Homo sapiens: one gene and its partners. The protein of the gene in region 2 purifies or fractionates together with the protein of the main gene of each other region. This does not show direct contact. Each region holds a gene or a part of one and is shown on either strand. Other genes may lie near its edges. The genes, in order: ISOC1, PITPNA and MLKL.

Region 1 (3,649 bases), on a different chromosome or scaffold from region 2:
TGTGAACTGCCTTGTCTGTAGTAGGAATGCTAACTCATCCCTTTAGCCTACTGTGTTCCCCAGGGTGGTAAGGTAGAGCAAATGAGAAAGGGGAGGGCCTTATCAGAGGAAAGAAGGGATGAGTACAGGGCCACAGGGTGGTGGGAAGCAGGCAGGTAGCTGGCCACAGCAGGTGTTTTAGGGTCCTTATTGGCTCTCCCTTCTCTGTTATTGCTGAAGCAGAATCCTATACTGAGATTACAAATAGAAATTATTTATTTTGTTTAGCTATTTTCAAGTCCATTAGGCTATTAGATTATCTGGTAGTTAGGTACTAAGTATTGCTGCTTCTTCCAATCTCAACAAAGACCTTTAATCCATTTCTTTTTTTTTTTTTTGAGAGATGGAGTCTTGCTTTGTCGCCCAGGCTGGAAGTGCAGTGGCACAATCTTGGCTCATCTGCAACCTCCACTTCCTGGGTTCAAGCAGTTCTCCCTGTCTCAGCCTCCCGAGTAGCTGGGATTGTAGGTGCCTGCCACTGCACCCGGCTAATTTTTGTATTTTTAGTAGAGATGGGGTTTTGCCATGTTGGCCAGGCTGGTCTCGAACTCCTGACCTCAGGTGATTTACTTGCCTCGGCCTCCCAAGGTGCTGGGATTACAGGTGTGAACCACTGTGCCCGGTCAGACCTTTAATCTATTCTTATAGTCATGAGTTAATCAATTCCTACTTTTCAGGTTTTCCTGGTAACCTGAGTTTAAATACTTCATTGTCAGGTCCTCACCACCTCAGCCAGCAGCTCTTTCAGCCACTGTGGATAAACCTTTATTGTAATGCTGAGGTCCAGAACTTTGGAAATAAAAAATGAAAAACACAAAACAAACTTCCTTGCTTGTAAAAAAGGACTTTTTTCAAGGACTTTTCTCCTACATTCATATTTTCTTAGATATGTCTTTGTTATGGCAACTTAATGACAAAATTTTGATTGGCAATTCTGTCTTTGCACAAGACTCAAGATTAAAAACAATTCCCATCTGAACCATTCTTTTTAGAGGCAATCTGTAATCTCTCGGATTAGGAATCCACACAATGTGGGGATAATGTGGGTTTGAAGGCAGGTTCTGGTGTTTTGTAAATTTGTGACTTTGAGCAAGTTGTGTAATCTCTATGCCTCAGATTTCTCATTGGTGAAATGGAAATGATAATAGCAACAAGATCATAGGATTTTTGTGAGAATGGAATGAGATAATATATTGATAGCAGTTAGGACAGTGCATGACATAGTAAATACTCAGATGTTAGCTGCTGCTTTTTTTGTTGTTACTGATTGTTGTCTTCACGTGGTTAGTCACCAGAAATGTGTAAGTATATAACCTCTAAGACCCAGAAGGGACTAGTTCTTGGAAGTTCTGAGAAGGGAGGGAAAGAATCTGTTGTCTGGGGTGGATTTGGAAGGGCCTGGAGCACCAACATTGCCTGGGGTTAAAGTGTTGAGGTTGAAAGGGAAAACCGATCATAGATAAGTCAGGTGGTGATTGATAGGGAACACCTGCCATATTGCAGATTTTTTTCCTTTTAGTCTTGATTTGATACGGAGGCGATATACCTTGTTCCTAAATTTGAGGAAGGGGGCAATGTTAAGTGTTCTGGTTTGTTTCCATAAGTGTGAAAGTTAAAATACCATTGTGGTCCTCTCCCCTTCCTCTCTATTCCTGTAGAACATAACTACTGAAGATAATTCCCAAGACTAGCTATATTGCCTGTTAAGATTATTTTAAGATTCATAGTTTGCATTATTGAAACTTCACTGTACCAGGGTCTGTGGCATGTGCTTTATTCAAGAAATGTTTTCTGGGTATTTGTCATCTGAAAGACATTACTCCTTTCAATTAACAATTGTAGAGTGCATGAAGAATAAGAGAATAAAATCCTCTCTTGACCTTGATGTCCTTGTACTTCCGGGGAGTTTTAGTGTTGCTTGGAAATCTAATGGGTTTAGTCTTTTTCCCCCCTCTCTGAGGCTTTCATGACTTAGTGCACATGCATTTTTTAGGTTTGTGGGTCAGAGCAATCCTTCTTTTCCTTTGGCCTAGTTGGATTAGTTTTGCAAGTGTAAGGGGAGAACTTCAGAAGTCTAATGCACATGTACCTGTGTGCATTAAATGGCTGGAGTTTTAACTGCCCCTTTTTAAGCCAGGAGAGAAAGTGGACTTGGGACCAGCATTGTCAGGATGGTGGGCAGGGACTTGCTAGGTATGTCTGGAAAGCTCCTGCTGTTCTTTCTCTGCTCAGGCACGTTCTTTGGTTGGGAAAGGGCAGGCATTGTGGGAATGGCTAAGAGCCAGATTGAAAACCATTGCATTTGCTAAGCTACACCTTTCCCTAACACAGGTTCCTGGCTAGATGATTTTAAAACCCAGTCAGTGTTGGCCACATTTCAATCTTGAAGCAAAGTGATAGTGTATGGGTGTCACTTTCCTAAAATGTATTTCTGTGATGTACACTTCCCACTCTGCCCCTGCTATGGCCACCTGAGTCTCAGCATCACTGAGGCTTGTTAGGCTCAGGTCAGTAGAGCACTAGGGAGTGCTGGGCATTGTAGACAGGCTTCTTGTAGCGTCACCAGATTCCTTCCTTAGACCTGGGAACAGATTTATCTTTCCTGTCTCACTAAGGAACTGGGGAGATTATCGAGAACTAACCTTTATTGGCACATTGGAGTATACAGTGTAAAGCACTCTCACAGACATTGAAAGCCTGTGATTTAGTCCTTGATTCAGACTGAATCATTGCAAGTCCATTGATTCAACAGTGAGCAGTAAGGAAGGCAGGGCTGAGCAGGGCAGGCAGCTGGTGATGGGGAGAGCTGGACATGAATGACTTGACATTCAGTGCTGTTTTCACACAACTGGACTGCAGCTTATCATATTTATTATCTGCCTTTCTGTCTGAAGCAAGCACACGATCTTTTCATATTTTTGAATGGTTTTGATATGATTAATCAGCTGACTATAAAGCAAGGAGGAGGAAATTAGGGCTTCCAGAAGTCTTAAAAAAATACTCAGAGATAACTCACCCCTGGTGTGTGTCTGAGCTTATGGCCTTACTCCAGGCCCCCAACCCCCCCATAAATAGCTGCTGTTTTTGTTTTGTTTTATTTTGTTTTTTTTAAAAAATTGCTGCAAAGTTCTGGTTAGCTGCTCTGCACCCTTTTCTGTACTGGTCATTAAGGTCCAAGCTTGCTTTCTGACAAGTAGGTTATGGCTTATACTCCCTTATACTTCATTACGGATAAAAATAAAGAGTCTGCCAGTGGAAAGGTTCAGTCTGCTGATGTACAGCCATTGAAGGAAGACTGACTTACACTCTGCAAGGATATTTTGGCTATGCAAGGGCTTCCTGGGTTTTTGCCTCTGACTTACCTAGGAATTGTTTCCAACCACTTCCTCTTTCATGCTTTTTACATATATGCTTTTTGTGATAACAGTTTGTGTCTTTTTTTTCCCTGGGATTTCTGATAACACATAAATCCAGAGAATGAATCTGTGCTATAGAATTCTTCTATTTTCCTCCTTTCCTCTCTCTACCCTTTACCCCCGACTTTCTGTTCTTTGCTCTCTTCCTTCCCTTCTTTCCCCTTTGCCTTCTCCTTTCTGTCTCTCTTTTCCTC
Region 2 (3,649 bases):
TCTGTGCTCTTTCCACACTGCTTACTACCCAGAGTGGCTAAATGCATGGATTCTGAAGTCAGACGAAACTGTTTTGAGACCCAACTCTGTCGTGATCTCTGTGACTTTTTTTTTTTTTTCGAAACGGAGTCTTGCTGTTGTTTCCTAGACTGGAGTGCAGTGGTGCAATCTCGGCTCCCTGCAGCTTCTGCCTCCTGGGTTCAGGCGATTCTCCTGCCTCAGCCTCCCGAGTAGCTGGGATTACAGGCACCCGCCACCATGCCTGGATAATTTTTGTATTTTTAGTAGAGACGGGTTTCACCACTGTTGGCCAGACTGGTCTCGATCTTGTGACCTCAAGTGATCCGCCCGCCTCGGCCTCCCAAAGTGCTGAGATGACAGGCGTGAGCCACCATGCCTGGCCCGATCTCTGTGACTTTGGTTAAGTCACCTAACCTCTTTGAACCTCATCTGTAAAATGAGGGTGATTCTACAGAGCTCTCAGGCTGGGGTGAGGATTGAATGGGATAATACATGCCTAGTGTGTCGTGGGCTCCCAGTCAAGTTAACTGTTATTACAAGGCAGAGGCTGGAATCTCCTAGCTGCCCATGATCCAGTAATGCCCATCTCCAGTAATGGGAGATGGTTACTCTCAACTGTGAACCTAGTGACTTTCATGTATTTTTTTTCCTTCTTCCAGAATGAGTACATGAAAGAAGACTTTCTGATTAAAATTGAAACCTGGCACAAACCAGATCTTGGCACGCAGGAGAATGTGAGTAGTAGTTCCCAAAAGCCCCAGGGGTGAGGTCTTGAGTCTCTGCCTTGTAGCCTCTCCAGGGCTACCATGGGGTCCTCTCTGTGGTCCTCTTTTGCCTGGCCGGGAAGGCAGTGGCCTCTGCCTAGACCTATCTTACCAGCATGGGATTGCTATGTCTCTGATTTGCAAAATGTGATCTCCGGAACTTTTTATGGGGCCTTCTCGTACTGCTTGGATTGGTGCAGTTCCTGGTACATGGGAGCTATATCTTTAAAAGACCAAAATTACAGTTTTCTATAGAGCACAATTTGCAGTAACTCCCAAAAAATAAAATACACCTATCCTTTAGCATTTCCATGCCCAAGAATTTAGACAGTTATTTTCACATGTGTGAAATAACATATATACAAGGAGACTCATTGCAGTCTTCTTTGTGTAGCCAAAGATCAAAAACAATGTAAGACCATCCTGGGCAACATAACAAGACTCTGTCTCTACCAAAAATAAAAAAAGAATTAGCTGGGCATGGTGGTATGTGCCTGTGGTCCCAGCCACTCTGGAGGCCGAGGCTGGAGGATCATTTGAGGCTGGGAAGTCAAGGCTGCAGTGAGCTGTGACTGCACCACCACACTCCAGCCTGGGCAACAGAGTGACACCCTGTCTCCAAAAACAAAAAAACAACATAAGAGCCCGTTAGACCGGGTGCGGTGGCTCACGCCTGTAATCCCAGCACTTTGGGAGGCCGAGGCAGGCGGATCACGAGGTCAGGAGATCGAGACCATCCTGGCTAACACGGTGAAACCCTGTCCCTACTAAAAATACAAAACAGCCAGGCTTCATGGCGGGCACCTGTAGTCCCAGCTACTCAGGAGGCTGAGGCAGGAGAATGGCGTGAACCCGGGAGTCGAAGCTTGCAGTGAGCCGAGATCACGCCACTGTACTCCAACTTGGGTGACAGAGCGAGACACTGTCTTAAAAAAAAAAAAAGAGAAAAAAAAGGCCCGTTAGTAGGACAACGTTAAATGCATTGTGGTTCAGCCAAATAGTGACATCCTTGCAGCCATGGAAAAACCAATAGAGAGCAGTCTTCAAGTTGACTGTTCAGTGAAGGATGGAAGTTATGAAACAAGGTGTGTGCATGCCGCCCTTCATATTAAAAGAAAAATCCACGCACATGGATGTTTGTATGTAGGATCTCTTAGAGGTGGCTGTTACTAGACTGGGGACGAGGGACAAGCAAGAAGAGGAGTTACTCTAGTTACTCTATATTGTATCCTTTTGTAATTTTGAATTTGTGTCATAATTTTGTATTATGTGCATGTACAGCCTGATCAAAATAATCAGCATGTTGCTAAACAGACGCCATCTCTAGAAGGGTTTACAGTCTTTACAGCGGGTCAGCATGTTGCTAAACAGACACCATCTCTAGAAGGGTTTACAGTCTGTACAGCCGGGAACACATGGAAATGGTGTGGGCACCGTAAACATCCGGAAGGCGTTTTGACCTGCAGAAGTGACGTTTACCCTCAATAGTCAGAGCATTCGTTCTCAGTCATGTCACTTAAAATCCAGCGGGGGCTGGGCGGGAGGCCAAGGCGGGTGGAACACTTGAAGTCAGTAGTTTGAGATCAGCCTGGCCAACATGGTGAAACCCTGTTTCTACTAAAAATACAAAAATTAGCTGGGCGTGGTAGCCCACGCCTGTAATCCCAGATACTCGGGAAGCTGAGGTAGGATAATCGCTTGAACCCGGGAGGCAGAGTTTGCAGTGAGCCGAGATCGCGCCATTGCACTCCAGCCTGGGCGTCGCAGCAAGACTCCATCTCAGACAAACAGACAATCCAGCTGGGTTCAGTGTTGTGCACCTATAGTCCCAGCTCCTCAGGAGGCTGAGACAGGAGGATCACTCAGGCCCAGCTCCTCAGGAGGCTGAGACAGGAGGATCACTCGGGCCCAGCTCCTCAGGAGGCTGTGACAGGAGGATTGCTCGGGCCCAGCTCCTCAGGAGGCTGAGACGGGAGGATCACTCGGGCCCAGCTCTTCAGGAGGCTGTAACAGGAGGATCACTCAGGCCCAGGCAGGAGACTGAGAGAGGAGGATCACTCAGGCCCAGCTCCTCAGGAGGCTGTGACAGGAGGATCACTAGGGCCCAGCTCCTCAGGAGGCTGTGACAGGAGGATCACTCGGGCCCAGCTCCTCAGGAGGCTGTGACAGGAGGATCACTCGGGCCCAGCTCCTCAGGAGACTGAGACAGGAGGATCACTCGGGCCTAGGCAGGAGGCTGAGACAGTAGGATCCCTCGGTCCCAGGCAGGAGGCTGAGGCAGGAGGATCACTAGGAGCCTGAGGCAGGAGGATCACTCCGGCCCAGGAGTTCATGCTAGAGTGTGCTGTGATCACTCCTGTGGATAGCCATTGCCTGAGAAACACGGTGAGACCCCATCTCTTAAAAAAAAAAATCCATTCTCCCATTTCTTTGGATAATTTTGTATGTAATTGTATAATTACTTATCATTAGGAATCTTACATCTGTGGCTATGGGAATGGCAGTTCCTAGGTGTCCATTCTGGCTAAAGGATATTTTATAACTGACAAAAACTGCATAGTGGTTCCCCACTTGTTCCCACAGGTGCATAAGCTGGAGCCTGAGGCGTGGAAACACGTGGAAGCCGTATATATAGACATTGCAGATCGAAGCCAAGTGCTCAGCAAGGTAGGATCCGTTTAAAGACGTGGGTGGCCTTCGAGACGCAGAAATGACTTCTCAATGCTAAAGAAACCAGGAAACCATACCCAACTTGGCACAAAAGGAAATTCTGATGTGTCTTGCTTGTTTTATTTTTAAAAGTGAGTATTAGGAGATTTCTTGTCTTGAGTTGGGGATGCCACCAGAAAATTAGTGGCCCAAAT
Region 3 (4,128 bases), on a different chromosome or scaffold from region 2:
TTTCACTTTTTCTTCCTCTGCCCTATCATACCCACCACTCTCCTAAGAGTCTTCCTTCAATAAATCACAGGCACCTGTGTTACTTGTTGAAGGTGTCCAGGTTCTTGGCATCTTGAACAAAGAAATGGGCAAAATGCACAAAGCAAGGAAAGAATGAGGCAACAAAAGCAGAGATGTATTGAAAACAAAGGTACACTCCACAGGGTGGGAGCCAGCGTGAGCATAGGGGCTCAAGAACTCCGTTACAGAATTTTCTGGGATTTAAATACCCTCTAGAGGCTCCCATTGGTTAATTGGTGTACACCCTATGTAAATGAAGAAGATGAAGTGAAGTTGCTCAGTCACTTACTCAGTGAACGCCATATGTAAATGAAGAAAATATTTCCTGTCATAGCTGAAATGTGTCCATTTTATTTAGTTCTAAGAAGTCAGCGTGAATCAGCTTTATGTTCCCTGCCTGCAGACCCTATTCTCCTGCCTCACCTCAATCTCTTCACCTAAGACAGGAAGAAAACTGATGATGCAGGAGACGAAGAACAATAGCAAGGCGAAGAAATGAATCTCCAAGGCCGGCTTCAAGCGATTCTCCCCTCTCAGGCTCCCGAGTAGCTGGGATTACAGGCATGCACCACCACGCCTGGCTAATTTTTGTATTTTTAGTAGAGACAGGGTTTCCCCATGTTGGCCAGGATGGTCTTGAACTCCTGACCTCAGGTGATCTGGCCACCTCCGCCTCCCAAAGTGCTGGAATTACAGGCATGAGCCACCACACCCAGCTCCCAGTTCTGTTCTTTTAGAGGCAAATAGTCTGTTGAGTAAATGCATAACACTACTTAGACTTTCTAGCTGAAGATGTAGTTAATCTTAAGAAAACCTGACTCACACTGTAACAGGATGTTCTGCAATGACCTTAGAAGAGGAAGTGACTTTTTTCCCACTTTGGTGTCTCTTCCCTCGTACCCTCCCCACCCCGCCAATATTATCCAGCACAGAGAAGCAAACACCAGAAGCTTCTCTCCAACTTTCAGTTTTTCTCTAAACTTCCAGTCCTTCTCATACTGTGTCCTGGTTATAATAGTTGCTGGGACCTTATTCTATTCTGAATCCCCAGCCCCTAAAGAAGGCTTGGTACTGACGTGTACAGCGTAGTTACCCAGTGACTTTGGGGAAGGCAGGAAGAGTGTGGAAAGGACAGGAGGAAGGAAGGGAGGGGCCGTGGCTCCGAGCTGCCTAGAAAGCGGCTCCAGGGAGCCAGGGCACCGTGAGCCTGGTGGTTGGCAGCTGGAGCCACGTCGGAGGGGGAAGTGTCGCAGCATTCTCTGCAGGCATCACAGACCTGAGGCAGTGGCCTCCGGAGGGCACTGGACAGAAACAGCCATCCAAGTGGCTGAGTGGAGGGACCCTGCTCAAGTGCAGCTGCAGTGGCCGGGGTTTCCCTCAGGTAGGGATCGGGGCGCCTTGTCGCCGCCAGCCACGTGTGGCGTCCGGTACAGTCAGCAGAGTGCAGGGTGCGGGCACCAGGAAAGGGGGCGCAGGGGAACTCCCGCGGGCCTCGCGTTTGCAAACTTCTCGCCTGGGCAGGAGGCGGTCGTGGGAAAGAAGGTGGAAGAGCGAGCTTTTTGGAACTGTGCACGGGACAGATTGGACGCACACCCCTCGGGAGGCGCGAAGGTGAGCATGGGGTCTTCCCAGGAGGCGGCGGGGCCGAGGGGCTGCAGCCGAATTCCTGGACGGTGATGGGAAGAACCAGGGGTGAGGGTGGCCCGGTCCGAGTTCCTGGAACTCAGGACCGAGTTGGTTTCATTTCCTCAGCTCTGATGGTGGAGCTGCCTGCTCGGATCTCGCACTACCTTCCGCCAAAGCGAGACGCCCAGTAGCAGTGGGGGTCGTGGAGGGCAGGGGCACGGGAACAAGTTACCTGATGTCTTCTCAGAAAAAGGAAGTCTTCAGGTTTGCAGGCTGAAGGCGTGAGAGAGAGACAGAGTGAGAGAGAGAGAAGAGGGAAATGCCTGATAACCTTTACTTATTTTATTTTATTTTTATTTTTTATTTTTTGGAGGGAAGAGGTGAATTTGCATTGTTATTACCATTTAAAGATTTTTCACTTTTAAAATTAGTAACCTGTTTTCTCATCGTAACATATGAACATAATCCCCTTTTTCTTTTTATTTATTTATTTTGAGAGATGGAGTCTTCCTCTGTTGCCCAGGCTGGAGCGCAGTGGCACAATCATAGCTCACTGCAGCCTCCGAACTCATGGGCTCAAGTGATCCTCCAACCAGATCCTCCCAAGTAGCTAGGACTACAAGGTGCACATCACCACACCCAATTAAATTTTTTTTGTATTTTTTGGTAGAGCCAGGGTCTCGCTTTGTCACCCAGGCTGGTCTCAAACTCCTGGGCTCAGGTGATCCTCCTACCTCACCCTCCCAAAGTGCTGGGATTACAGGTGTGAGCCACTGCAGCTGGCCTGAACATATTCTTAGCTGTTTGTTTTACATATTATAAATAGCACTGCAGTGAACATCTCGGTAGCCATCTATCTACAAACACAAGCTTTTCTACATCATAAGTTCCTAGAAATTCAAATTGCCCAGTCTAAGTGTGTATATATGTATATTCCCTTTCTTCCCTTGTAGATCATATACTTAATAAGACCTTAAACAATTTAAGTTATTGTAGGGTGCTTTTTCCCAATATTTTGCAGTTTTTAATATATTTTAATTTCATACAGGCAAGTCCCCTTTTCTTTATTTTTTAAAATCCTGGTTATCCCTACTAATTTCCCATTTCAAATGAACTTTAGGATCATTTTGATTTAATGCCAAAATATGTCAGTAGATGTTTTATTGGAACTGCATTAAATTGGATTTAAATTTGGGAAGGATTGCTGGGTTGGTCTGTTTTAGTCTTCCCAGCCAGAAATATAACACTTCTCTTTCCTCCTTTCTTCAAGCTTTGTTTTGTGCAATTTTCTTTCTTTCTTTTTTTTTGTTTTTGTTTTTGTTTTTGAGACGGAGTTTTGCTCTGTTGCCCAGGTTGGAGCACAGTGGTGTGATCTCGGCTCAGTGCAACCTCCACCTCCCGGGTTCAAGCAATTCTCCTGCCTCAGCCTCCCGAGTAGCTGGGATTACAGGCGCCTGCTACCATGCTTGGCTAATTTTAGTATTTTTAGTAGAGATGGGGTTTCACCATGTTGGCCGGGCGATCTCAAACTCCCGACCTCAGGTGATCCACCTGCCTCGGCCTTCCAAAGCGCTGAGATTACAGGCATGAGCCAATGTGACCGCTGCAATTTTCTTCATACCATGCCACCACTGTATAATTTATTATTTGAAATTGTTTGTCAGTTCTATGGGTGGGATATTTTCCCCATTTTCCTTTCTGATTAGTTCAGTGCTGAGATATGGCTTTCTGATGAGGCTGCTGGTAAGATAACTGGAGCTTAGAGCTAGGAAGCTACAATTTGCAAGATTCCTTGAACAACATTGCCACATTTGCTTCTGTTTCTGGTGCAACAGAGAAAGTGTAAAACCTTTTGCCCTCACAATTCCCAAGAAATGGCCTTGAAGATATCTGCTTAGCACGTGGGAATAGCTGGGTAGTCTGAGATCCACTAGTCTTTTTAGGAGTGCCCTAATAACTGTTACCTCCCTTGCCCAATCACTGTAACTCTCAGGCAACAAAAACACAACTATATCGATTGCTCATTTATTTAGTTTCACTTCTGCCAGTGCCTTACTCATGTTTTAAAGCCATACTTGGGCTCCAGGCCAATTATTTTCTCCAAGCTGCTAATTAATCCATAAACTGGCGATAATACTTAACCTACCTATTTCACTGAGCTGTTAAAAAAAAAAAAACTAACTTTGTTTTTTGTTGTCGTTTGTTAGTGGTGGTGGTGGTGGTGTTTTTGAGACACTGTCTCATTCTGTTGCCCATGCTGGAATGGAGTCAGTGGCACAATCATGGCTCACTGCAGCCTCGACCTCCCAGCCTCAATCAATTCTCCCTCCTCAGGCTCCAGAGTAGCTGGGACTACAGGCAAGCACCACCACATCCAGCAAATTTTTGTATTTTTTTGTAGAGACAGGGTTTCACCATGTTGCCCAGGCTGGTCTCGAACTC

What was found.
Region 1: the proteins of PITPNA (region 2) and ISOC1 fractionate together in Homo sapiens (co-fractionation; one large-scale study listed by BioGRID). This does not show direct contact.
Region 3: the proteins of PITPNA (region 2) and MLKL purify together in Homo sapiens (affinity purification with mass spectrometry; one large-scale study listed by BioGRID and IntAct). This does not show direct contact.

What each region holds. Positions count from the first base shown.
Region 1 is NC_000005.10:129,108,148-129,111,796, forward strand, and holds part of ISOC1 (isochorismatase domain-containing protein 1), read left to right. Parts: intron 1-3,649.
Region 2 is NC_000017.11:1,538,672-1,542,320, reverse strand, and holds part of PITPNA (phosphatidylinositol transfer protein alpha isoform), read left to right. Parts: intron 1-680; coding exon 681-755; intron 756-3,368; coding exon 3,369-3,452; intron 3,453-3,649. UniProt on the Homo sapiens protein: Catalyzes the transfer of phosphatidylinositol (PI) and phosphatidylcholine (PC) between membranes. Shows a preference for PI and PC containing shorter saturated or monosaturated acyl chains at the sn-1 and sn-2 positions.
Region 3 is NC_000016.10:74,697,996-74,702,123, reverse strand, and holds the start of MLKL (mixed lineage kinase domain-like protein), read left to right. Parts: upstream 1-1,261; 5' UTR 1,262-1,671; intron 1,672-4,128. UniProt on the Homo sapiens protein: Pseudokinase that plays a key role in TNF-induced necroptosis, a programmed cell death process. Does not have protein kinase activity.